2 linked regions of the Homo sapiens genome follow. The protein of the gene in region 1 binds, or shares a complex with, the protein of each later gene. Each region holds a gene or a part of one and is shown in the gene's direction. Other genes may lie near its edges. The genes, in order: EIF4G1 and EIF4E.

The links.
Region 2: the proteins of EIF4G1 (region 1) and EIF4E are in contact, whole or in part, in a crystal structure (PDB 5T46), measured with the Homo sapiens proteins. Residues at the interface, in NP_937884.2 of Homo sapiens: Glu608, Lys609, Lys610, Arg611, Tyr612, Arg614, Phe616, Leu617, Leu618, Phe620, Gln621, Phe622, Ile623, Phe624, Ala625, Ser626, Met627, Gln628, Lys629, Pro630, Leu633, Pro634, Ile636, Asp638, Val639, Val640, Leu641; in NP_001959.1 of Homo sapiens: Pro31, Tyr34, Lys36, His37, Pro38, Leu39, Gln40, Phe47, Lys49, Arg61, Leu62, Ile63, Ser64, Val69, Glu70, Trp73, Ala74, Leu75, Tyr76, Asn77, His78, Ile79, Gln80, Leu85, Tyr91, Glu132, Leu135, Ile138, Gly139, Glu140.

Annotation. Positions count from the first base shown.
Region 1 is NC_000003.12:184,306,353-184,318,819, forward strand, and holds the start of EIF4G1 (eukaryotic translation initiation factor 4 gamma 1), read left to right. Parts: upstream 1-8,253; 5' UTR 8,254-8,322; intron 8,323-8,811; exon of another isoform or gene 8,812-9,136; 5' UTR 9,137-9,193; intron 9,194-9,410; 5' UTR 9,411-9,444; coding exon 9,445-9,504; intron 9,505-9,719; exon of another isoform or gene 9,720-9,779; coding exon 9,780-9,866; intron 9,867-10,360; coding exon of another isoform or gene 10,361-10,381; intron 10,382-10,968; coding exon 10,969-11,145; intron 11,146-11,364; coding exon 11,365-11,464; intron 11,465-12,467. Other genes in the region: PSMD2 (26S proteasome non-ATPase regulatory subunit 2), read left to right, coding at 1-143, 399-482, 1,005-1,173, 1,262-1,356, 1,538-1,664, 2,097-2,215, 2,356-2,538.
Region 2 is NC_000004.12:98,878,776-98,890,873, reverse strand, and holds the end of EIF4E (eukaryotic translation initiation factor 4E), read left to right. Parts: intron 1-2,921; coding exon 2,922-2,985; intron 2,986-3,681; coding exon 3,682-3,795; intron 3,796-4,327; coding exon of another isoform or gene 4,328-4,420; intron 4,421-5,812; coding exon 5,813-5,952; intron 5,953-9,731; coding exon 9,732-9,846; 3' UTR 9,847-11,598; downstream 11,599-12,098. UniProt on the Homo sapiens protein: Acts in the cytoplasm to initiate and regulate protein synthesis and is required in the nucleus for export of a subset of mRNAs from the nucleus to the cytoplasm which promotes processes such as RNA capping, processing and splicing.

The DNA of each region.
Region 1 (12,467 bases):
CTGGGAATGTGCTGAAGGTGCAGCAGCTGCTCCACATTTGTAGCGAACACTTTGACTCCAAAGAGAAGGAGGAAGACAAAGACAAGAAGGAAAAGAAAGACAAGGACAAGAAGGAAGCCCCTGCTGACATGGGAGCACATCAGGTTATATGGGCAGCTGGGCACTTGCAGAGAGGCTGTGAGAAGAGATAAGCATATAGGGGAGGCTGGGTTTGGTTTTTGCTTTAGGGCCTCTCTGGGTATTGCCATGTATTGAAATAGCGTGTGACTGGGTTCTGTATGTAAGGGGTAAAGGTGTTCCCCACAGGATGGCTTTTTATTTTCAGATGGGACTTGAGTCAAGGGTGACTGTTTTTTATTCCTTGAGCTTAATGGGTTCTGCTCTCTCTTCAATTGCAGGGAGTGGCTGTTCTGGGGATTGCCCTTATTGCTATGGGGGAGGAGATTGGTGCAGAGATGGCATTACGAACCTTTGGCCACTTGGTGAGTATAGCATGAAGAAAATTGGAATATACTGGTTTTGATGGCCTGGGGTTCCCCAGGGAAGATTTTTCTGATGGGTTTTCTTGGTGGAGAGCTGGTCTTTTTGCTGTGCCTTTTCTTTCTTTTTTCTTTTCTTTTTTGAAGCGGAGTTTTGCTCTAGAGTGCAATGGCACGGTCTTGGCCCACTGCAACCTCTGCCTCCCGGGTTCAGGTGATTCTCCTGCCTCAGCCTCACAAGTAGCTGGGACTACAGGCACATGCCACCATGCCCAGCTAATTTTTGTATTTTTAGTAGAGACAGGGTTTTACCATGTTGGCTAGGATGGTCTCTATCTCTTGACCTCATGATCCACCTGCCTCGGCCTCCCAAAGTGCTGGGATTACAGGCATGAGCCACCATGCCCAGCCTGCTGTGCCTTTTCTACAGAAGTTAAGGCCCCCTTTTACCCATCAGTCCACTCCTGTAATGGAATTTGTTTTTACTGCATTCCGCCTTACTGTTGTATTTTCTTGGATCATCAGCTGAGATATGGGGAGCCTACACTCCGGAGGGCTGTACCTTTAGCACTGGCCCTCATCTCTGTTTCAAATCCACGACTCAACATCCTGGATACCCTAAGCAAATTCTCTCATGATGCTGATCCAGAAGTTTCCTATAACTCCATTTTTGCCATGGGCATGGTGGGCAGTGGTGAGTATCCGGCAGAAGAAGGTCATAAACAGATTGGGGGAAGATTTGAAGCCCCTTTTTTCACTTCTGTAATGCTTAACATTTCCAGGTACCAATAATGCCCGTCTGGCTGCAATGCTGCGCCAGTTAGCTCAATATCATGCCAAGGACCCAAACAACCTCTTCATGGTGCGCTTGGCACAGGTAAAGAATAGAACTCCTCCACAGAGCGTGCCGGGGAAGTATCTGTGGTGATGGAAGGAGGAACATGGAGTGTTGGCCCAGGAGGAAAGATGTGACCAAGTGGGAGATTTCTGTTTGGCTGGGTTAGGCGATGTCTCCTCAGTGGTAACTCCTCACCTCTACTTCCCTCTGTTTTTTTCAGGGCCTGACACATTTAGGGAAGGGCACCCTTACCCTCTGCCCCTACCACAGCGACCGGCAGCTTATGAGCCAGGTGGCCGTGGCTGGACTGCTCACTGTGCTTGTCTCTTTCCTGGATGTTCGAAACAGTGAGTTCCTGTCAGAAATTTTATATCATAGCATGCAGGGCTCTGACTCCACCCTTTCCAGGGCCACTTTGATAATTTAGGTTCAAGACCCCAGTTTAGCTCTGTATCGCTCTAGGTTTCTGAGACAGGCTTTGGGCCTGTGACATGAGACTTTCATCACCCACACTTTTGATCTGGCCCAAAGAGATTTGAGGGTGATGTGCCCAGCGTCTGCTCCTAAGTCACTGGGGAAATGCGATTTTCAAGTCTAAGGGCTGTAAGCAAAGTGAGGTGGGGGCGTCTCTGGTTCGTAGTAGGGTGTATGAGGGGAGGAGTGTGGATTCAGTCGTATGACTGACGGGTTAAAGGGTCAGCGCTGAGGTGGGCTCTCAATGTTTCTGGCCAGGCCTGTCTTTTTGTCTCTTAACTTTTTGTCCTGTCTGCTTCCCTCAGTTATTCTAGGCAAATCACACTATGTATTGTATGGGCTGGTGGCTGCCATGCAGCCCCGAATGCTGGTTACGTTTGATGAGGAGCTGCGGCCATTGCCAGTGTCTGTCCGTGTGGGCCAGGTGAGAGGCTGAGTAGAGGGGAGGGCTCAGGCTGTATTCTCAAACTGGAGAATGTACATATACTTGCTTTGCTGAAACTGGCGTGGGCGGTGGCTTGTCGCTACTTTTCCATCTCTCTTTTCAATTTTCTTACCCTACAGGCAGTGGATGTGGTGGGCCAGGCTGGCAAGCCGAAGACTATCACAGGGTTCCAGACGCATACAACCCCAGTGTTGTTGGCCCACGGGGAACGGGCAGAATTGGCCACTGAGGAGTTTCTTCCTGTTACCCCCATTCTGGAAGGTTTTGTTATCCTTCGGAAGAACCCCAATTATGATCTCTAAGTGACCACCAGGGGCTCTGAACTGCAGCTGATGTTATCAGCAGGCCATGCATCCTGCTGCCAAGGGTGGACACGGCTGCAGACTTCTGGGGGAATTGTCGCCTCCTGCTCTTTTGTTACTGAGTGAGATAAGGTTGTTCAATAAAGACTTTTATCCCCAAGGTCTCTCTGTGTCTGTTTTCTGGGGTGTCATGGCTGGAGTCTAAACTAGAGTAAGGAGTGGAAGTGAGAGGGCATTGTTAGGAGCAACGCTGAGTTTAGGTTAGCAGCACTGCCCTGGATGGAAAGAACTGAGCCCCTTCCCTCCCCTGGGTGGAAAAAACTAAGCCCCTCCTTTCTAATCATCTTCTCTTTGCATTTTCTTAGAACCCTTGAGAAGCCAATAAATGTAATGGATCTTCTTTTTGTTTTGTTTTGTTTTGTTTGAGACAGAGTCTTGCTGTCTCCCCCAGGCTGGAGTGCAGTGAGGCAGTCTCGGCTCACTGCAACGCCTGCCTTCCGGGTTCACGCCATTCTCCTGCCTCAGCCTCCCAAGTAGCTGGGACTACAGGTGCCTGCCACCACGCCCGGCTAATTTTTGTTTTTTGTTTTTGTTTTTTTGAGATGGAGTCTCGCTGTGTCATCCAGGCTGGAGTGCAGTGGTGCGATCTTGGCTCACTGCAAGCTCCACCTCCCGGGTTCACGCCATTCTCCTACCTCAGCCTCCCGAGTAGCTGGGATTACAGGCACCTGCCACCACGCCTGGCTAATTTTTCATATTTTTAGTAGAGACGGGGTTTCACCATGTTAGCCAGGATGGTCTCGATCTCCTGACCTTGTGATCCGCCTGCCTCAACCTCCCAAAGTGCTGGGATTATAGGCGTGAGCCACCGCACCCGGCAAATTTTTGTATTTTTAATAGACGGGGTTTCACCATGTTGGCCAGGATGGTCTCGAACTCCTGACCTCAGATGATCCACCTGCCTCGGCCTCCCAAAGTGCTGGGATTACAGGTGTGAGCCACCGTGCCCAGCCAATGGATATTCTTCCTAGGAGACGCAAATACACAAATTTTTACACAAACTCTTCCAAATAACTTCAGGGGGCTTGTGGATCCTGTAAATAACCCCCCACACTCACCCTCCACCACCAATACACCCTCTTCAAGCCTATCATCTTCTGACCTTGGGCTAAGGATGCCCAAGAGTGGGCAGCCTCATACTTTTCTAACTTGACTTACGTGCTACTGAATGAAAAGGACATCTTTACCTCCCGCAACCATCTGTCCCTCTTGGGAGGCTGCTATGAGGAATTTGATCATGTTAACATCTACTTCTAGGATGTCCTTGTAGAAAGTGGATTCAAGAAGGCTTGACCCTCAGCCTCCCAAGCAGGTAAGGTAGGGCTACAGGTGTGTACCACCACTTCTGGCTTTTTTTTTTTTTTTTTGAAATGGTCTCACTCTTATCACTCAGTCTGGAGTGCAGTGGCACAGTCATAGCTCACTGTAGCCTCAAACTCCTGGACTCAAGTGATCCTCCTGACTCAGCCTCCCAAGTAGTAACTAGGACTATAGGCATGACCCACCACAGCTGGCCTACTTTTATTTTTGTGGAGGTGGGGGTTTTGCTGTGTTGCCCACGCTGGTCTCAATCTCTTGGCCTCAAGGGATCCTTCCACCTCAGCTCCCAAAGTGCTGGGATCACAGGCATGAGCCAGTATGCCTGGCTATTTATTTATTTATTTATTTTGAGACAGAGTCGTGCTCTGTTGCCCAGGCTGGAGTGCAGTGGCGTGATCTCGGCTCACTCTGCGTCTGGGGTTCAAGAGACTGTCTGCCTCAGCCTCCTGAGTAGCTGGGACTACAGGCATGCGCCACCATGCTCTGCTAATTTTTGTATTTTTAGTAGAGACGGGGTTTCACCATGTTGGCCAGGATGGTCTCGATCTGACCTTGTGATCCACCTGCCTCGGCCTCCCAAAGTGCTGGGATTACAGGTGTAAGCCACCACACCTGGCCCAGTTATTTTATTACTAAATTTTTTTAGAGACAAAGTCTCACTTTGTGGCCCAGGCTGGAGTGCAGTGGCATGATCATGGCTCACTGCAGCCTTGAACTTCTAGGCTTAAGTGATTCTCCCACATCAGCCTCTCAGGTAGCTGGGATTACAGGCATGAGACATCAGCAATTTTGGATTGAGTCATCTTGGCAGCCTGTATAAAAAGGTTGAAACAGGATTAAGGAATCCCTGTTGAGCCCCTTTATGGTTCCTGCCATAATCTTCAAGTTAGCATGTGTGATGTGATGAGCCTCTGTTATTATATAATGTGGATATAGTAGTTGCCTTACCTGATTTCCAGTGGTGGTGATGTTAGAATAAAAAGTGATTTGTAAACTAAAAAGAATGATTCTCTCCCAAATTGTGATTTAGGTGATTGTGCTTTAGAATAAGACAGTTTCATAGTGGCTTTTAACCTTTCACCTTTAGTTCTTCATTCATCAGTGAATAGCAGTGGAGCCTTACTCTGCATCAGACATTCGTCTAATTTATGGGGATGCAAATACAGAAAAAAACCCCTATGCTCAAAAAGTTTAATGAAATGATGAAAACAACTGTGATCGATACTTACCAGGGTGTGAACAAGGTACCCTGGTATCACTGAGATGGGGCCTAAGTGCCTGGGGCAATCGGGGGACTTTGAGGAAGCTTATATCCTTAGAGGAAGATAAGTTTGTACAGAGGAAAAGAGGGCAGAATATAGCTAAGGGAGTAGCAAAGGCAAGAAGGAGGAAAAGCTGTTTTCAGAAACTTACAGATAATTTGGTTTGGCTAAATGTATAGGGGCCAGGGAAAAGGGTGGTAGGAGATACAGCTGGAAATTCAGGCTCAGACTAGGTTTACAAGAGCTTTGTTGTGCTAAGAATTTGACAGTATCTTTCAATGGGGCCCACTGAATGAGAGCAGAAAAGTGACATGATCAGCTATCTGGGTGAGAAAGCTAACCCTGGAGGACAGGAGAGCAGGCAAGGAAAATGAATGCTTGAACTAAGGCAGTTGAAATGGGGACATAGGGAAGGGTAGAATAGTTATTTTTTAAAAGATAAGATCAATAGGACTTGATTTTGATCCAAATACCAGTAAGACCTGGTGTCTGATTAGATGTAGTGTGTGGATGGAGAAGGAATATAGGATGAATCCCAGATTTTCAGGTTAGGCACTATCTATTACGTAAGCAACAATATATTTGGGGGACTTGATTGAGTAGGGAAAGTTAACAAATTCTGGCCAGGTAATAAGTATCAGAGTTTGGATGAAAACTCAAGCAATCTGACCTGTGGATTTGGCTGTAGATGATGGTCCCTTCTGGCCTCTGTCAGCTTTTTCTTTTTTTTTTTGAGACGGAGTTTCGCTCATGTTGCCCAGGCTGGAGTGCAATGGCAGGATCTCAGCTCACCGCAAGCTCCACCTCCCGGGTTCAAGCAATTCTCCTGCCTCAGCCTCCTGAGTAGCTGCGATTATAGGCATGCGCAACCATGCCTGGCTAATTTTTGTATATTTTTAGTAGAGACGGGGTTTCTCTATGTTGGTCAGGCTGGTCTCAAACTCCCGATCTCAGGTGATCCGCCTGCCTCAGCCTCCCAAAATACTGGGATTACAGGCGTGAGCCACCGCCCCCGACCGGCTGTCAGTTTTAAGATTACTTCTCTTCTGTCCTTATTCTTCCATCCTTACGCTTTTGCCCCTCCGTGGGAGTGTCTGCTCTTTTTATATTTTATTTCATTTATTTATTTATTTATTTGAAACAGAGTCTCACTCTGTTGCCCAGGCTGGAATGCAGTTGTGATCTCAGGTCACTGCAGCCTCCAACTCCCAGGTTCAAGCGATTCTCCTGCCTTAGCCTCTCCACTAGCTGGGACTACAGGTGCTTGCCACCACATCTGGCTGATTTTTCTATTTATAGTAGAGATGAGGTTTCACCATGTTGGCCAGGGTGCTCTCGAACTCCTGACTTCAGGTGATCTGCCTGCCTTGGCCTCCCAAAGTGCTGGAATTACAGGCGTGAGCCACCGTGCCTGCCTTTATTTTTTATTTTTATTTTTATTTTTTGAGACAGAGTCTCACTGTCATCCAGGCTAGAGTGCAGTGGCGCAATCTTGGCTCACTGCAAGCTCTGCCTCCCGGGTTCAAGCAGTTTTCTGCCTCTGCCTCCTGAGTGGCTGGGACTACAGGCGCACGCCACCAGACCCGTCTAATTTTTTGTATTTTAGTAGAGATGGGGGTTTCACCATGTTGGCCAGGATGGTGACCCCGTGATCCGCCCTGACCCCGTGATCCGCCCGCCTCGGCCTTCCAAAGTGCTGGGATTACAGGCGTGAACCACCGCGCCCGGCCCATGATCCTTTTAAACGACAAATCTCATACTACTTGCCTAGTTAGAATGTTTCTAACTTTTTAAACGACAAATCTCATACTACTTGCCTAGTTAGAATGTTTCTATCCTTTTAATTTCCTTTGTTATAGGCCTTTCAAGGACCTAATCTAAATTCTTTTCAAAGCCTGCATAATTCGTGTTGTATCACGATTTACTTAGGCAGGACTGAGTCTTTAATTTCTTTTTTTCTTTCTTTTTTTTTTTTTTTGAGATGGAGTCTCACCCTGTCGCCAGGCTAGAGTGCAGTGGCGTAATTTCGGCTCACTGCAACCTCCGCCTCCCGGGTTCAAGCAATTCTCTGCCTCTGCCTACCGAGTAGCTAGGACTACAGGCGTGCGCCACCAGGCCCAGCTAATTTTTTGTATTTTAGTAGAGACGGGGTTTCACCATGTTGGCCAGGATGGTCTAGATCTCCTGACCCCGTGATCCGCCCGCCTCGGCCTCCCAAAGTGCTGGGATTACAGGCGTGAGCCACTGCGCCCGGCCCATGATCTTTTTAAACTACAAATCTCATACTACTTGCCTAATTAGAATGTTTCTATCCTTTTAATTTCCTTTGTTATTGGCCTTTCAATGACCTAATCTAAATTATTTTCAAAGCCTGCATAATTCGTATTGTATCACGATTTACTTAGGCAGGACGGAGTCTTTAATTTCTTTCTTTTTTTTTTTTGAGATGGAGTCTCGCCCTGTCGCCAGGCTAGGCTAGAGTGCAGTGGCACAATCTCCGCTCACTGCAACCTCTGCCTCCCGGGCTCAAACAATTCTCCTGCCTCAGCCTCCCAAGTAGCTGGGACTACGGGTGCGCCACCACGCCCGGCTAATTTTTGTATTTTTAGTAAAGACGGGGTTTCACCATGTTGGCCAGGATGGTCTCGATCTCTTGACCTCGTGATCCGCCCACCTCGGCCTCCCAAAGTACTGGGATTAAGGTGTGAGCCACCGCGCCCCGCTTATTTTTTTTTTTTTTTTGCCGAGACTTTGATTTCAGTTTCTCAGCCCTCAACCAGCACTTCGCCTTGTACTTAGCATGCACTCAATAAATGGTTGCTTAAAATATGAATGAACTAAAGAATCGCGGAACAGAGAGAAACACAGAGGGGAATCGGTCTGGGAGTTTCAAAGTTCGGGAGGGGACACGGGGGCGGGCTGTGGCTGTCACGTGACGGGGCGGGGGCAAATCCCATGTGCTCGGCGGCGCAGATCGCCCGGCGCGGCTCCGCCCCCTGCGCCGGTCACGTGGGGGCGCCGGCTGCGCCTGCGGAGAAGCGGTGGCCGCCGAGCGGGATCTGTGCGGGGAGCCGGAAATGGTTGTGGACTACGTCTGTGCGGCTGCGTGGGGCTCGGCCGCGCGGACTGAAGGAGACTGAAGGTAAAGCCGCCATGTCCGGGCCCGACCCGGCCCCCCCACCCCCTCCCCCCGCATCCGCCGCCATCCGGGCCGGGACCGGCCACCCTGCGCCGCCGCCCCGGCGCCCTGGCCCCGCGGCCCGACCCAGGGCCCCGGCCCGCCAGGGTCCCGATCCCCGGCCCACGTGTGCCTGGCCCGGCCGGGCCTGGCTGCTGGGTGGGGGTGGGGAGCGCAGGGCCGGACTATGCGGGCCCCGCGGGCTGGTAGGGCGCCGGGTTCGTCGCCGCGAAATGCCACCTCGGCCTGACCCGAGGAGGCCCGGCAGCCCACGGGCGCAGGCACCACGGCTCCCGGCCCGCCGCCCCCTCCCCCCTTCGCGGCCAGGCCGCCGGGAAGTGACACGTTGTTCTTTGGCACTGGCCCGCGCTGCGCAGGGAGGGCGCAGGGGAGGGAGGCGGTGGCGGCGGGCAGGGAGGAGCCCCCGGCCCCGCCCGCCCTCCGGGCCGACCCTCACTTGCCTGAAACCGGCTCCTCGACGGCCGCCGCCCGCCTGGCCTTTTAGGGCCTGACTCCCGCCCTTCCTGGCCTACACTCCTGGGCGGCGGCAGGCCTAGCTTCTGGCCCAGTGCGGGTTCCCCGGCGGCAGGCGTATCCTGTGTGCCCCTGGGCCAGGCCCGAACCCGGTGTCCCCGGGTGGGGGGTGGGGACGCCACGGCCGAAGCAGCTAGCTCCGTTCGTGATCCGGGAGCCTGGTGCCAGCGAGACCTGGAATTTCCGGTCTGGTTGGTCTGGGGCCCCGCGGAGCCAGGTTGATACCCTCACCTCCCAACCCCAGGCCCTCGGATGCCCAGAACCTGTAGGCCGCACCGTGGACTTGTTCTTAATCGAGGGGGTGAGTGAGGGGTCTGTTTCAGTAGGTCAGGGGTTGGTTGGAAGTGATGCGGGTTTGACAGCATGTTGGTGGGGACAGGCTGTATCTTTTCTGCTTCACCCTCTTGGCATCTCTGGGACTCCGTATGGGACCCAGCCCTTGCATCAACCCTTTCACCGCCCCATTTGCCTTAAGCTTGGGTCCCTTCCTCTTCCTGAGCGCCACTCTTTCCCAACAGGTGCTGGGGGGACCCTGATGTGGCACCAAATGAAATGAACAAAGCTCCACAGTCCACAGGCCCCCCACCCGCCCCATCCCCCGGACTCCCACAGGTAATTAGGGAGGAATTAGCAGGGGTGGGGGTGGGGGAGACCAGGCAGTCTCCAGCCTCTGGATCTTCCTACCCCCATCTGTGTCAGGGCAAAGTGCAGCCGCCTGCTGCCAAATTGAGACAGGGCCCCTGGGCTGTCCCCGGGGGCTGTCACGGGGAGGGGGTATGTGGATTGTTAAGGCTCTTGCCGCAGATCTGCTCCCCTTATTTCACCAGCTTGGGTTTCTGCCCCACCTGGGCTTCCCCTCTTGCTGAACTCTGGTCTCCCCTCTTCAGCCAGCGTTTCCCCCGGGGCAGACAGCGCCGGTGGTGTTCAGTACGCCACAAGCGACACAAATGAACACGCCTTCTCAGCCCCGCCAGGTGAGGGGCTGTGGGGAGGGGAGTAGGGGACCTGGGTGGGAGCAGTGGAAAGCTTTGGCCAGTTTAGGTCTAGGATGGAAACTGGAGGCCCCATACCTGGCCTTAATCCTCTGTGTTCTTTCATGCGGCTCTGCGCCTTGCCCTGTTGATTACTCACGGTGGCTGGTCCCTTGGATAGTATGTTGTCAATGAGGGTGGCATTACTGGGATCCTAGTGCCTCTGAGAATTGGGGGCAGTGCTTTGGGCCCTGCTGCCAGCTCTTGCTTTCCTATTTGCTCCTTTTACCGGAGGCTGCTATTGCTCTATTGCTCTCTCTGCTTTCTCTTTGGACTGTGGTGAGGTAAACACTCCAGCTGGTCCTTGCCTTTCTCTGTTCCCCAGCTTCTTCCTTACTAAGTGGGAGGATTCTTGTCCTGTCTTATTGCCTTCATTCCCTCCCCCCGCCATCACCTTGGGGGTAATTCTCTTCTTTCCTATCCCCATGTGCTCTCAGGGAGGATTCAGGTCTCTGCAGGTAATATCCCTTTCCCAACCCTGGACAGTCTTCTGGTCTCATCCTTACCCTCCACCCTAGTCAGGGGCTAGACACAGGGAATGGGGATCTTCAGGGTAGTGACTTGTTTGGTGTCCAGGTTCTCAGTTGGAGGCCGAGTGATGCATGTTAGGGGCTACATCTTGAAGAACGCGCATCTGGGGACTGGGATGCTGTTGCATGTTATGGTTAGCTCCTCATTACATGCTGGTGGAGCAGTGCATGCTGGGGATATGTTGCCCGAAAGGGCCTTACTTAGGCATGATGCATCTCGGTGTTAGGAAGCCTCTGCAGAGGGGTAGTTTGGTAGAGGTGACGTGTGTATGCATGGCAGTGAGAGAGTAAATCTCTGCAGGATGCAAAGTGTACATCTGAATTTGGAGGTTTGGAGGGCATGTGTGTGTACAAGAAGCCGCTTAGCCATTTGGTCAAGTGGTCTTGGAAGGATTGGTCGCCATGTTCTGAAGCCCACAGTACTTCTTTCCAGGCTATAGAGACATTGTGGAGTGGCAATTTTTTGTCCACTTCCTTCTCTTTACAATGCCAACTGCTTTCCTCCCTCCTGACAGCACTTCTACCCTAGCCGGGCCCAGCCCCCGAGCAGTGCAGCCTCCCGAGTGCAGAGTGCAGCCCCTGCCCGCCCTGGCCCAGCTGCCCATGTCTACCCTGCTGGATCCCAAGTAATGATGATCCCTTCCCAGATCTCCTACCCAGCCTCCCAGGGGGCCTACTACATCCCTGGACAGGTGAGGCTGGGGGCTTGGAGCCTAGAAGCCACAGACCCCTATACCTCTCACTTAACTCACCCTGACCCTCCAGTTCCATTGCTTTTCCAGAGGTGGGACTTCCTTCTGGTCATTGCCCAGAGTTGGCTTGTCTTGTCTTGACCTATGTTCTTTTTGGAGTCTGATATGGAACTCATAGCTCCCTCAACTCCTTCTCTCCCTCTCCCCCTTCCCCACCAGGGGCGTTCCACATACGTTGTCCCGACACAGCAGTACCCTGTGCAGCCAGGAGCCCCAGGCTTCTATCCAGGTGCAAGCCCTACAGAATTTGGGACCTACGGTAAGCAGGGGAGGGAGTCAGAGGTGAGAACAAGCCCAAGGGAGCATCTAAACTCATCTGCTGATTTCTAAAGCAGAAGACCCTTCCCAGGCTTGGCTTCTGGTCTAAAAATGATAAGGTTAATAGGTGGTAGGGATTGGTGCTTAATATTTAACTGGTGTTGATTGTGGGGAGAAAATTTGATTTTATTGCCAGGAGAGTTAAGAGTCTTTCCCACATCAGGGAATGTAGGATCAGGCACCAGCCTGAGAGCCTATTAGTAGGCTTTCCCTGTGACACTTCTTCCATGGTTGGGAGCCCATGTAATGCAAATTTGGGAGGTTTTTGTAGCTATTTTTTATTTATGTTCTAGGGAAGGATTAGTCTGTTCTTTATGGCAGTGGCTTCCAAGTTTTTTGATCACCTATCAGGAAAAGTTTTGAGTATGAATCTCTCATACATGTATGTTTTTGTTTATATGTATGCAAAATTTAAACAAATACACTTGTGCTTGTCAAAAACAAGTGGAATTTAGGGATGAAATTAAAGAATGTGCCCGGATCTTGCTTGTAATCCCAGCACTTTGGGAGTCAGGAGGACTGCTTAAGGCCAGGAGTTTGAGACCAGCCTGGGAAACTTAGTGAGACCCTGTCTCTATTTTAAAATTTGAGGGGGGCTGAGCACGGTGGCTCACGCCTGTAGTCCCAGCACTTTGGGAGGCCAAGACAGGCGGATCACTTGAGGTCAGGTGTTCGAGACCAGCCTGGCCAACATAGTGAAGCTCCGTCTCTACTAAATTTTATTGTTATTATTTTAATTTTCTTTTTGAGACGGAGTCTCGCTCTGTCACCCAGGCTGGAATGTAGTCGCACAGTCTTGGCTCTCTGCAGCCTCCGCCTCTTGGGTTCAAGTGATTCTCCTGCCTCAGCCTCCCGAGTAGCTGGGATTACAGGCGTGTGCCACCACACCCAGCTAATTTTTGTGTTTTTAGTAGAGATGGTGTTTCATCATGTTGACCAGGCTG
Region 2 (12,098 bases), on another chromosome or scaffold:
TGTTTTCAGTGCAATATCTGGAATTTCCTGTACCAGAGATTTTAAGATATCAAAGGCTGAAGTGTTCAGAATTCACGGTTTGTCAAGGCAATGCCAGTATCTATCATGATACTTTATTCATTTCATTATACTTTGATCAACCTCAAGAAGAATAGTTGAAATATTTTTGAAATTTTGTTTCTGTATAGCAGAAAGTTAAGAATTGGGATCATCAACTTTTGCATGACCTTAAAACAAAATTTAAGGCTGGGCTCAGTGACTCATGCCTGTAATACTAATACTTTGGGATGCTGAGGCAGGAAGATCACTTGCAGCCAGGAGTTCAAGACCAACCTGGTCAACATGAGTCCCTGTTTCTCTATAAAATAAATAAAAATTGTAAAGTCTATTTCAAGAAGTTTTGATAATTGATTCTCTTAAAAACAAAGTTAATCCAGTGTGTCTAATTTACTTGGAGAATGACTAGGGAGGTACTATTTGAGACCATGAAAGGCAAAACTCTTTAATAAGCACTTTAAATTACCTAGCAGTTATCTAAATATTCTAACTTGTACATCTTTTTTTAGGATCATATACATGCTGAATTAGTGATGCTACTCTTATGTTTTAATGTAACCCCCTCAAGATATTCTGCTCATACAAAGAAATAGATTGTGGTATAAAATTTATACATATGTATGTACATCTTCAACAGCAGAAACAATATTTTTCTGTATATTTCCAGTGCTTGGCTTCTAATAGATATTTTGTATTCATTTGTGTTGCTGAAAAAAGCAAAGCATACGATTAAAACCATAAACTTTGAGAGTATTTGAGAACATTCATTTGAGAGTAAACTTTGAGAGTATTTATTTTTTATTAAAAGCATTGACACTTAATAATAACTACATTTAAGGCCTAATAATTTATAGGTCTAGTTTTCTAGTTAAACTAGGATTATTATTCTTTGCCCATCATCAAAACATCAAGTAGTTTTTCTTCTCTAGTTTTGTTTATTCAGGACTCTTAAATAACTCCAGTCTTCTGCACCCCCCAAAAAAAAGCTTTTCATTCTCCTACAGAGAAAAAGGAAGCCTTGAGCCACCTTCCCCAATCAGATTTGCATTTATCTAGTTTGTTTGGCTTTTACCAGTTTACATAATTCTACCTTCTAATTAGAACAGTTCTCCATGCTTCAGTTACATGTAGTCAATGTCATTACATAGTAGGTTTTTATACCATAACTTAGAGATATGAAGGATTTTTCAGTTTTCTATAAATGTGTGGGCCACTTCCTAATTTCTGTTTTTTTCTAGCAAATTTATTGCAGATAACCATTGAGTCCTTTTGTATTTATCCAGACTGCATAGTCTTAGGATTCTGTTTAGATGTGCCATTATAAATTCTCATGATGGACTTACTTGAGAGACCTTTGAGCACCACAGAAGAGAAAGGAGGCAGCAAAAGGGAAAAAGTATTTTATTGAAGGTCATTCCCACAATATCCATTCATTTTATGACATTAGTAGCGCTAATTTTATAGTCACTTAGTATCCCGTCTTTTTTTGTTGCCTAGTGGAGGCTGTCATTGATGATGTAGTTGGGAGTTACCATTAGGTAGTGACTCAGCAAACCTTATGTGGTCTTAGGTTGTCTCACCTAAACTATATTTGTGTGTTATACTATGGAATTTGATTTAAAGATGCCAACTTCTTTCTTAAATCTTTTTTTTTTTTTTGAGATGGAGTCTAGCTCTGTCACCAGGCTGAAGTGCAATGGGGTGATCTCGGCTCACTGCAACCTCCGCCTCCTGGGTTCAAGCGATTTTCCTGCCTCAGCCTCCCTAGTAGCTGGGATTACAGGCGCATGCCACCACGCCCGGCTAATTTTTGTATTTTTAGTAGAGACAGGGTTTCATCATGTTGGTCAGGCTGGTCTCGAACTCCTGACCTCATGATCCACCTGCCTCGGCCTCCCAAAGTGCTGGGATTACAGGCGTGAGCCACTGCACCCGGCCCTTAAATCTTTACCTGAAATATTCCTAGATGGGGTTAACATAGCACCAGGAGAACCAGACTAAGGATAGTAGAATCATCCATGGTCTGTAGACACAGCTAAGATCATTATTTCTGCCATCTAATATTGGAGACAAGCAAAAGATTCTTAAGAGTTGCCAATTTTTAAATCAATTTTGCTGTAAAAGACTACAGGAGATCAAATGATCTAAGCCTCCTACCTTCAGGCAAGCAACTAAGTCATCGCAAATGTTATTCTGTTATTTTGATACTTGGGAAATAGTTTAGAAATACAGACTGCAGGGTTCCATCTTATATTTAGGTGATTATAATCCCAAGATGTAGGGCTTGTAACTATATTTATTTATTTATTTTTCTAAAATCAGTTTTAAAATGATTATTATGTTGACTAACCAGTGACAGTTTGTGGTGTTTGGGAACCGTTGATCTATTCTACTCTTGGATACCTTCAAGGATAATGACTGTTTCAGTCATGCAATCCTGATGGTCAGGAAGTTCATCGTTTCTGGTTTTTGTTTTTGTTTTTGTTTTTGTTTTTTTATGTTTGTGAAAAAAACTGTGTATTAACTTCAGAAATTATTTCATCTACTTAAAGCCACCTTATACCTCTCTTCTCAGTTTCTTATATATATACATATGTATGCACTGAGTTAACTAACATAAAATATATTTTTGTCAGAGCAGTCACTAGAAGTTTTTTTGAAAATTATACCTGTCATCTGAAGTTGATTATTTAACTGCTTTTAAGATCTGTTTTGTCCATTTTAGAAATTGACTCCTTAGAAACAAGTAAACATGAACTTTTATCTGTTTATTTTCATCATATGTTCTAAATGTATATATATGTAAGCACCTAAACTCTATATTACATATTCTGTGTTTTTAATTGTTATTTTCTTTTACCTAGTCTGTACAACCATATCCAGTTGTCTAGTAATTTAATGCCTGGCTGTGACTACTCACTTTTTAAGGTATGCTTAATTGGTGATTTTATATATTTATTATAGGACTGGGCCATTTGGTATTCATTAAGAAATCTTACCATAAACTTAGGAATATTTGATAGTGTGATGAATAGGCTGATAATTTAATTGGCTGTAGTATGCTTTAGTATCAATATATCTTATTCTATTTGTTTATAAAAATTGAGAGAGAGTTACTCTGTGGGCACATACTGAGATTGATTTTGATGAGAGCTTTGATTATCCAGTCTACTCCTTCCTTTATATATTTGAGCAGACTGAGTTTATCAAGCATTCTTAACCTTAGGAGCATGGGTCCTTGGAATACTTATTATTGGGCTTTGTCAGTTGGTAGAGGGACGGGACATTCATTAACTGAAATTGCATAGTTTTTGCATGTATTTTCTAGCTGTAGAAATGTACAGAGCTTCTAAAATATGTTTGCTTCTCAGAAAGTTTAAGAACCTTCAAATTAAGTGAAACCCAAGATTTGATAGCTAATAAGTGACAAAGCCAGGACTCTAATTCTGCAATGTCATGCCTCTGGCTTTAAGTCTTATGTGCTGTTTAAAAACTACATCAATGGCAGTTTTATGGGCAATAAAGTAAGAAGTTGACAGTGTTGTTGCTTAACTGTTTCTAATGATTATCTCTCAAAGTCAAGGTAACAATGTTGTGTAATACTGTTGTCTTCTAACCCTGTAGGATGGTATTGAGCCTATGTGGGAAGATGAGAAAAACAAACGGGGAGGACGATGGCTAATTACATTGAACAAACAGCAGAGACGAAGTGACCTCGATCGCTTTTGGCTAGAGACAGTAAGGTTTTAAAAGTATAAAGCAGTTTTAGAGGTAGTTTTGGAATACTGATACTTAAGATATGTTATGTTTTACATTTGTTACTTAATTTAAGAGAAGGATGCCCAACACTAGAAAATCAGGGTCAGTAATTATTTTTGTTCTGTCATATGACTCCTGTTTATAGTACAGTGAAACATCCTACCACATTATAAGTCAGATATTTTAAGTGATTGGCAGTTGACTCTCACCACAGTAAGCTCACTGTGGTCATTTCATTAACCTCAAAATTATAGAACCTTACATTTTGTATGATTGAAGTTTTTGCAACCCTCTTACAGCATTGCTATATGTATACTAAACTTTTAAATACTTATATTTTTAGAGCGAGGGTCTTGCTCTGTTGCCCAGGCTGGAGTGCGGATATTTATTTATATGGCTCATTTCAGCCTCACCCTCTGGGTTCAAGTGATCCTCCCACTTCAGCCTCTTAAGTAGCTGGGACTACAGGTGCATGCCACCATGCCCAGCTAATTTTCTAATTTTTTTCCAGAGATGGGATCTTGCTATGTTGCCCAGGTTGGTCTCAAACTTCTGGCCTCAAGTGATCCTCCCACTTCAGCCTCCCAAAGTGCTGGAATTACAGGTGTGAGTCACTGTGCCTGTCCCACTAAACTTTTTAGATTAGTGAAGCAAATAATAAAATTGTTGTGTACTACCATTTGACCTACATGTTGTGATATTAACTGGAACTTCTGGCTTTACAAGACAAATTAAATATGAGATAATAAGCATTTTCTGTAGACAGAGGTTCCAAACCCCAAGCTTATAGGAGCGGGGTTTGTAGTCTCTTTTGTATCCCTAGCACTTGAAACCGTGCCTGGTTTATAGTTAGCACTTGTTAAGTTAATCACTTTAAATGTTTGAATAAGTGACTATTTTGCTTTTTTTTAGAGACAGGGTCTTGTTCTGTCGCCCAGGCTAGAGTGCAGTGGGGCCATCATAGCTCACTGTAGCCTCCTGGGTTCAAGCAATCATCCTGCCTTAGCCTCTCAAGTAGCTGGGACTACAGGTGCATGCCAGCACAGCCAGCTAATGAATGAATGACTTTTTAAGAAGAAAATTCTGTTTTTGAGGGGGAAGATCATGAGCAAATACCATTTTTGAATTCCACATTAAAAAGTCAGGACATTTCCATTTTGCAGTTAAAAAAAATCTTCTGGAGATGGATGGTAGTAGGGATGGTTGTACAACAATGTTGAATGTACTTAACACCACTGAACTGTACACTTAAAGGTGGTTAAAATGGTAAATTTTATGTTATTTGTATTTTACCACAATTAAGAAATCTGTTAGGGCTGGGCTCACACCTGTGATCTCAACACTTCAGGAGGCTGAGGCAGGCATTTCACTTAAACTCAGGAGTTCAAGACCAGTTTGGGCAACATGGCAAAACCCTGTCTCTACAAAAAATACAAAAATTAACTGGGTATGGTGACATGTCCCTGTATGTATGCCCACCTACTCAGGAGGCTGAGGTGGAAGGATCATTTGAGCCCAGGAGGTTGAGGCTGCAGTGAGCTGTGATGATCCCACTGCACTCCAGCCAGGGTGACAGAGCAAGACCCTGTCTCAAACAACAACAACAACAAAAAACCAGACCATTAACAAATATTCATAAAAAATAAGAACAAGAGGAGATTAACCATGAATAGCTATTTTTATTATTCTATTAATATTTGTTTGCTCATAAATATAAGCAGCAGCAGAGCAAATGAATATTAATAAAATCAGCTTTTATGTCTGCCATGACATTAACTGCCAAATTTGCTGAAAAAGGCTGATTTGATAGTAAATAAATGAATGAGTATTTAAAAGTCAGGACAGATCAATATATGCAAATAAAATTTACACATTTAAAAAATTAACTCTTGATTTAAAAACTGCCTTTAGTTTCTATGCAAATACAGAAGAGACATTTGCAGTGTAATGAGCTTGTTTATAATCTATTAAATGTAATTTGGGATTTTTTTTTAAGCTTCTGTGCCTTATTGGAGAATCTTTTGATGACTACAGTGATGATGTATGTGGCGCTGTTGTTAATGTTAGAGCTAAAGGTGATAAGATAGCAATATGGACTACTGAATGTGAAAACAGAGAAGCTGTTACACATATAGGGTAAGTTTTGCTCTTTGCCTACTTATTTTACAGTATTAAGATGAGTAAAACCAGAAGTTATTTTATTTGTAGCTTTAGAAATACTTCAGTTTGTAGATCCTGTTTTCCTTGTATTGTTTTCGTGAACACTTTTATAATTTTGAACGGCTCAATTGGTGCGCAACGTCTTGTTTTTTTGGGTTTTTTCACAGCTATTTATTTATTTATTTATTTAGAGATAGAGTCTCACTCTGTTGTCCAGGCTATATATAGTACAGTGGCATGATCTAGGCTCACTGCAACCTCCGCCTCCCGGGTTCAGGAGATTGTTATGTCTCAGCCTCCCGAGTAGCTGGGAATACAGGCGCATGCCACCATGCTTGGGTAATTTTTATATTTTTAGTAGAGACCAGGTTTTGCCACGTTGGCCAGGCTGGTCTTTTAACTTTTGGTCTCAAGTGATCCGTCCACCTCAGCCTCCCAAAGTGCTATCATTACAGGCATGAGCCACTGCGCCTGGCCTTTTTCATATGTTTTTTATTTCTGTAAAATTGCTTTTTCTTAGCAGTGAAGTATATAACCACTAGAGCACTCTCCTTTGGCATGTAGCATTTTTTATTCATTCACAAATGAGAATGTATTATTTCCTACTTTGAAAGTGCTGTTTGGAAAAAAGTACTACTTTGAAAAGAGCTAATGTATGCTCATAATAATAATTCAGTGATTATTGGCAAATAGTATATGTGCATTTAAAGCATGTGTGTTTACTACGTATAATTTTCATTAAAATTTATATAACATATCTTGGTTTTTGTTCCATGTTTAAAACCCACATATGTAGGGTTTTATTAAACCTTTTTTTGTAAATTTTATTCTTTGCAAAAGTGGCTTTTTTTTTTTTTTTGAGACAGGGTCTCACTGTGTTATTCAGGCAAGAGTGCAGTGGTGCAGTCATGGCTCACTTCAGCCTCAACCTCCTGGGCTCAGGTGATACTCCTACCTCAGCCACCCAATTAGCTGCAACTACAGGTGTGTATGACCACACCTGGCTATTTTCTTGTATTTTTTGTAGAGAAGAGGTTTTGCCATGTTGCCCAGACTGGTCATGAACTCCTGGACTTGATCAAGCCACCTCAGCCTTTCAAAGTGCTGAGATTACAGGCGTGAGCCACCATGCTAAACCAGCTGACATTTTTTTTCTAAGATTTCTTTTTACCTCAATTATATTAGTAATATTTGACACCAGGCGCAGTGGCTCACACCTGTAATCGCAGCACTTTGGGAGGCTGAGGCAGGTGGATCACAAGGTCAGGAGATTGAGACCATCCTGGCCAACACGGTGAAACCCCGTCTCTACTAAAAATACAAAAAAAACAATTAGCTGGGCGTGGTGGCGGGCGCCTGTAGTTCCAGCTACTTGGGAGACTGAGGCAGGAGAATGGCATGAACCCGGGAGGCGGAGCTTGCAGTGAGCCAAGATTGGGCCACTGCGCTCCAGCCTGGGAGACAGAGCGAGACTGTCTCACAAAAAAAAAAAAAAAAAAAAAAATTTGACTTACAATTTTATGTTAAAATTAAGTGCTGGTCAGTCAGTGGTCAAAATGTTTGGTTTGCCCCTTTGTGATTTTTCAAATATTATTAATTTTTCTTTTTAAAATTAATTAATTTTTTGAGACAGAGTCACACTCTGTTGCCCAGGCTGGGGTGCAGTAGCGCGATGTCAGCTCACTGCAACCTCCACCTCTTGGGTTCAAGTGATTCTCTTGCCTCAGCCTCCTGAATAGCTGGGACCACAGGCCTGAACCACTGCAGTAGTTTTTGTAGAGACAGGGTTTCGCCATGTTGGCCAGGCTGGTGTCAAACTCCTAGCCTCAAGTCATCCACCTGCCTCAGCCTCCCAAAGTGCTGGGATTTCAGGCGTGATCCATTGCTCTCAGCCATGTAAATTTTTATGTGAACATAATTTATTTCTGGATCAAAAGGTATAGGGATTTTCTACATTTCATGCTATATGGGGTTCCATAAGAGAAAAGAGTTGATTTGTCATCATATTTTAATGTTTCTTCCAGCATCAAAACCTAATTTTGGAGGATTTACTTTTTTTTTTTTTAAATGAGTTAAATTAAGAATTTTTTTCCTACGGAAGTTTTGTATTTTTGTCAATATTAAATGTTTTTGAGTGTATATTAAGACTTCAGATTTTCAAACGAAGATTTTCTTTTTTAACCTTCCAATTTGCATGACTCAATGGTCTTGCTTTTTGACATTTTTAATAATTAAGTATAATTGAAAGGAATGCATTGCATTATAATGCAAATTTGATAATTAACACTTTAGTTACCATAAAATTACTTTTTAATACCTTATTTTAGGGGGAAGGTAGTAAATCTTCTGGAAGGTATAAAAAAAACCTATCCTAGTATCATGTTGGAGGATTTAACTCCATTAATATCTTTATTCCTTTATTTTTATTTGATTTTTGCTTATTTTTGAATTTTTACTATTTTTTTCCTAAAGATTCTTTTTTCTTTTTTTTTTTTTTTTTTGAGACGGAGTCTTGCTCTGTCACCCAGGCTGGAGTGCAGTGGCACAGTCTCACTCAAGCTCACTGCAAGCTCTGCCTCCCAGGTTCACGCCATTCTCCTGCCTCAGCCTCCCGAGTTGCTGGGACTACAGGCACCTGCCACCACACCCGGCTAATTTTTTGTATTTTTAGTAGAGGCGGGGTTTCACCATGTTAGCCAGGATGGTCTCGATCTCCTGACCTCGTGATCCGCCCGCCTCGGCCTCCCAAAGTGCTGGGATTACAGGCGTGAGCCACCGCGCCCAGCCAAAGATTCAAATTTTTAAGATGACCTATGAAGCTCTCTGTGATCTTCCTCTGAAACCTTGTCAGCTTTATCTCATGTTCACTTTACTTACAAGCCATAGCCACACAGCCTAATTTTTATTTCTCAGCTTTCAAATGTGCTCATTCTCTTAACATTATCCTTTTGACCTCGTGATATTTAAAGGGGAAGACTTCTCTAATGTTGTAGATGAGATTAGAATCTCCTTGTTATACAGTATCACAGCCCTTATGTTTACTCTTTGGCACTCATGACAAGTGCCATTTTATTCTTGCAATAGAGTCATGTCTTACTTGAAAATTAGGTTGTAAAGTTAGTATGTAAAGCAGAAATTACATTCTCCCTCGAAGTGTTTCATTCACTCCCTCGAAGTGTTTAATCTCCCTCAAAGTGTTTAGTTTTTGTTTGTGCAGTCTTATAACAGGTATGGTTAATATAATTTGTGTAGTAATATACAATATTTGCTAGGGTTCAGACGTGAAATGTAACATTTTAGATCAAAGAATGAAACATGTTTGTTTTACAGATTTCTGTTTTTAAGTATGCATGTGATACAGGTCTGTCATGTATTTGTGATTATTTGATTATGTTTTCTCTACTAGACTATAAATGCAGTCAGCTCAGGGACTGTCCTTACTTTGTTCACTGTTGATTTAGTAATAATTATAGTATCATAATAAATAACAATATAATAATATAGTAATGCTCCTGTAATTTAGTAATAACATACCTGACTCGCTCTCAAATATTTTAAAAGTAATTAACCAAGAATATCGCAAAAATGAAGAGTAAATTGTGCTGAAAGGAAAAGGGTGTATAATTAATTTCCTATTTTATTCTCAAGTCTATGTTTTTTAATATAAAGACTAATAACCCTAAATTTTTAAATGTATTTCTTGTGAGTAAAAGTTAATGACTACTTTTTTCTTCTTCTTTTTTTTTTTCTTCTAGGAGGGTATACAAGGAAAGGTTAGGACTTCCTCCAAAGATAGTGATTGGTTATCAGTCCCACGCAGACACAGCTACTAAGAGCGGCTCCACCACTAAAAATAGGTTTGTTGTTTAAGAAGACACCTTCTGAGTATTCTCATAGGAGACTGCGTCAAGCAATCGAGATTTGGGAGCTGAACCAAAGCCTCTTCAAAAAGCAGAGTGGACTGCATTTAAATTTGATTTCCATCTTAATGTTACTCAGATATAAGAGAAGTCTCATTCGCCTTTGTCTTGTACTTCTGTGTTCATTTTTTTTTTTTTTTTTGGCTAGAGTTTCCACTATCCCAATCAAAGAATTACAGTACACATCCCCAGAATCCATAAATGTGTTCCTGGCCCACTCTGTAATAGTTCAGTAGAATTACCATTAATTACATACAGATTTTACCTATCCACAATAGTCAGAAAACAACTTGGCATTTCTATACTTTACAGGAAAAAAAATTCTGTTGTTCCATTTTATGCAGAAGCATATTTTGCTGGTTTGAAAGATTATGATGCATACAGTTTTCTAGCAATTTTCTTTGTTTCTTTTTACAGCATTGTCTTTGCTGTACTCTTGCTGATGGCTGCTAGATTTTAATTTATTTGTTTCCCTACTTGATAATATTAGTGATTCTGATTTCAGTTTTTCATTTGTTTTGCTTTTGTTTTTTTCCTCATGTAACATTGGTGAAGGATCCAGGAATATGACACAAAGGTGGAATAAACATTAATTTTGTGCATTCTTTGGTAATTTTTTTTGTTTTTTGTAACTACAAAGCTTTGCTACAAATTTATGCATTTCATTCAAATCAGTGATCTATGTTTGTGTGATTTCCTAAACATAATTGTGGATTATAAAAAATGTAACATCATAATTACATTCCTAACTAGAATTAGTATGTCTGTTTTTGTATCTTTATGCTGTATTTTAACACTTTGTATTACTTAGGTTATTTTGCTTTGGTTAAAAATGGCTCAAGTAGAAAAGCAGTCCCATTCATATTAAGACAGTGTACAAAACTGTAAATAAAATGTGTACAGTGAATTGTCTTTTAGACAACTAGATTTGTCCTTTTATTTCTCCATCTTTATAGAAGGAATTTGTACTTCTTATTGCAAGGCAGTCTCTATATTATGTCTTCTTTTGTGGTGTCTTCCATGTGAACAGCATAAGTTTGGAGCACTAGTTTGATTATTATGTTTATTACAATTTTTAATAAATTGAATAGGTAGTATCATATATATGGAATTAAATTGATGTGGCTATCTTTGTTTTTTTATAAAGTAAGGCACAGTCATTCAGTCTTAGGTAAATAATGTACTCTCTTAATATGTTAATACTCATGAGAATTGGGATCTGATGCATCACCATTTGATTGGTAGCAACAGTGGTTGTAAAACTTGGTTGCTGAATTGAGTTGTTTCTATGTTAAGTGTCAAAATGATAGTGTAGGGAAAGTACAGGTGGTGGGGACATATGCATTAAGAATCTTGTTAGTGTTGCAATCTAAATAGAATGGAATAAACAGGTGTTAAGACATATTTATAGTGGTAAATTGTTGTAGTATGGTATTCTGTAAACTTGAAAACTTGATCTACTCTTTGTAGGTATCATTTGAAAGCAAACTTGAAAATGTTTTGTACATAGTACATACTTGTATAGTCCTGTGAGATGAAGTATGGCTATCAGACCAAAGGATAAGCCAAACTGTAGGTAGCAGAATGGAAATTATTATTTTGAGAGGAAAATTTGTCTTTGAATGGTGATTATGACTTAATCATTTTAAAACTGATAAACTTGACAAAAACCCTGTATGAAATAAACATGAAATTAATAGCACTGATTTCATTGTAAAATTTTAAAGCAGTTTAAAGGGTACCACAGGTTATCACAGTACTCTCAATGCCACAAACACCTCTTGTTCAGTATTCTAGAAATACTGAATCAGAATTCTGTGTTTATTATAATCTCAGCATACTGTACATAATATCTGCTAGTTAAACTTGGGTAATTGGTTAAGGTGACTTACTGTCTATGTCAATATGTATAGTTTTGAGTACTTCAAGAGTTTACTTAAAAGTGATGATGTTACTGGTATGTTGGCAGTGGGTGGGACTGAAGTAGTGTATCTATTATAAATTGATCTATTTTCTTAATTCTAAGATGAAGTCCAATTTTAAGCATCAGCTTTTAGGTGCAAAGGAGGAATTAACACATTAAATGTATACAGTTCTAAATTTTTGAAATAACTGATGTGTAGCATTTGATTATTGGTATTACCATTTTAGAATCATGATGTTATTTTAAACCTTTTTCCTGGGGACAAGAAAGGATAATAA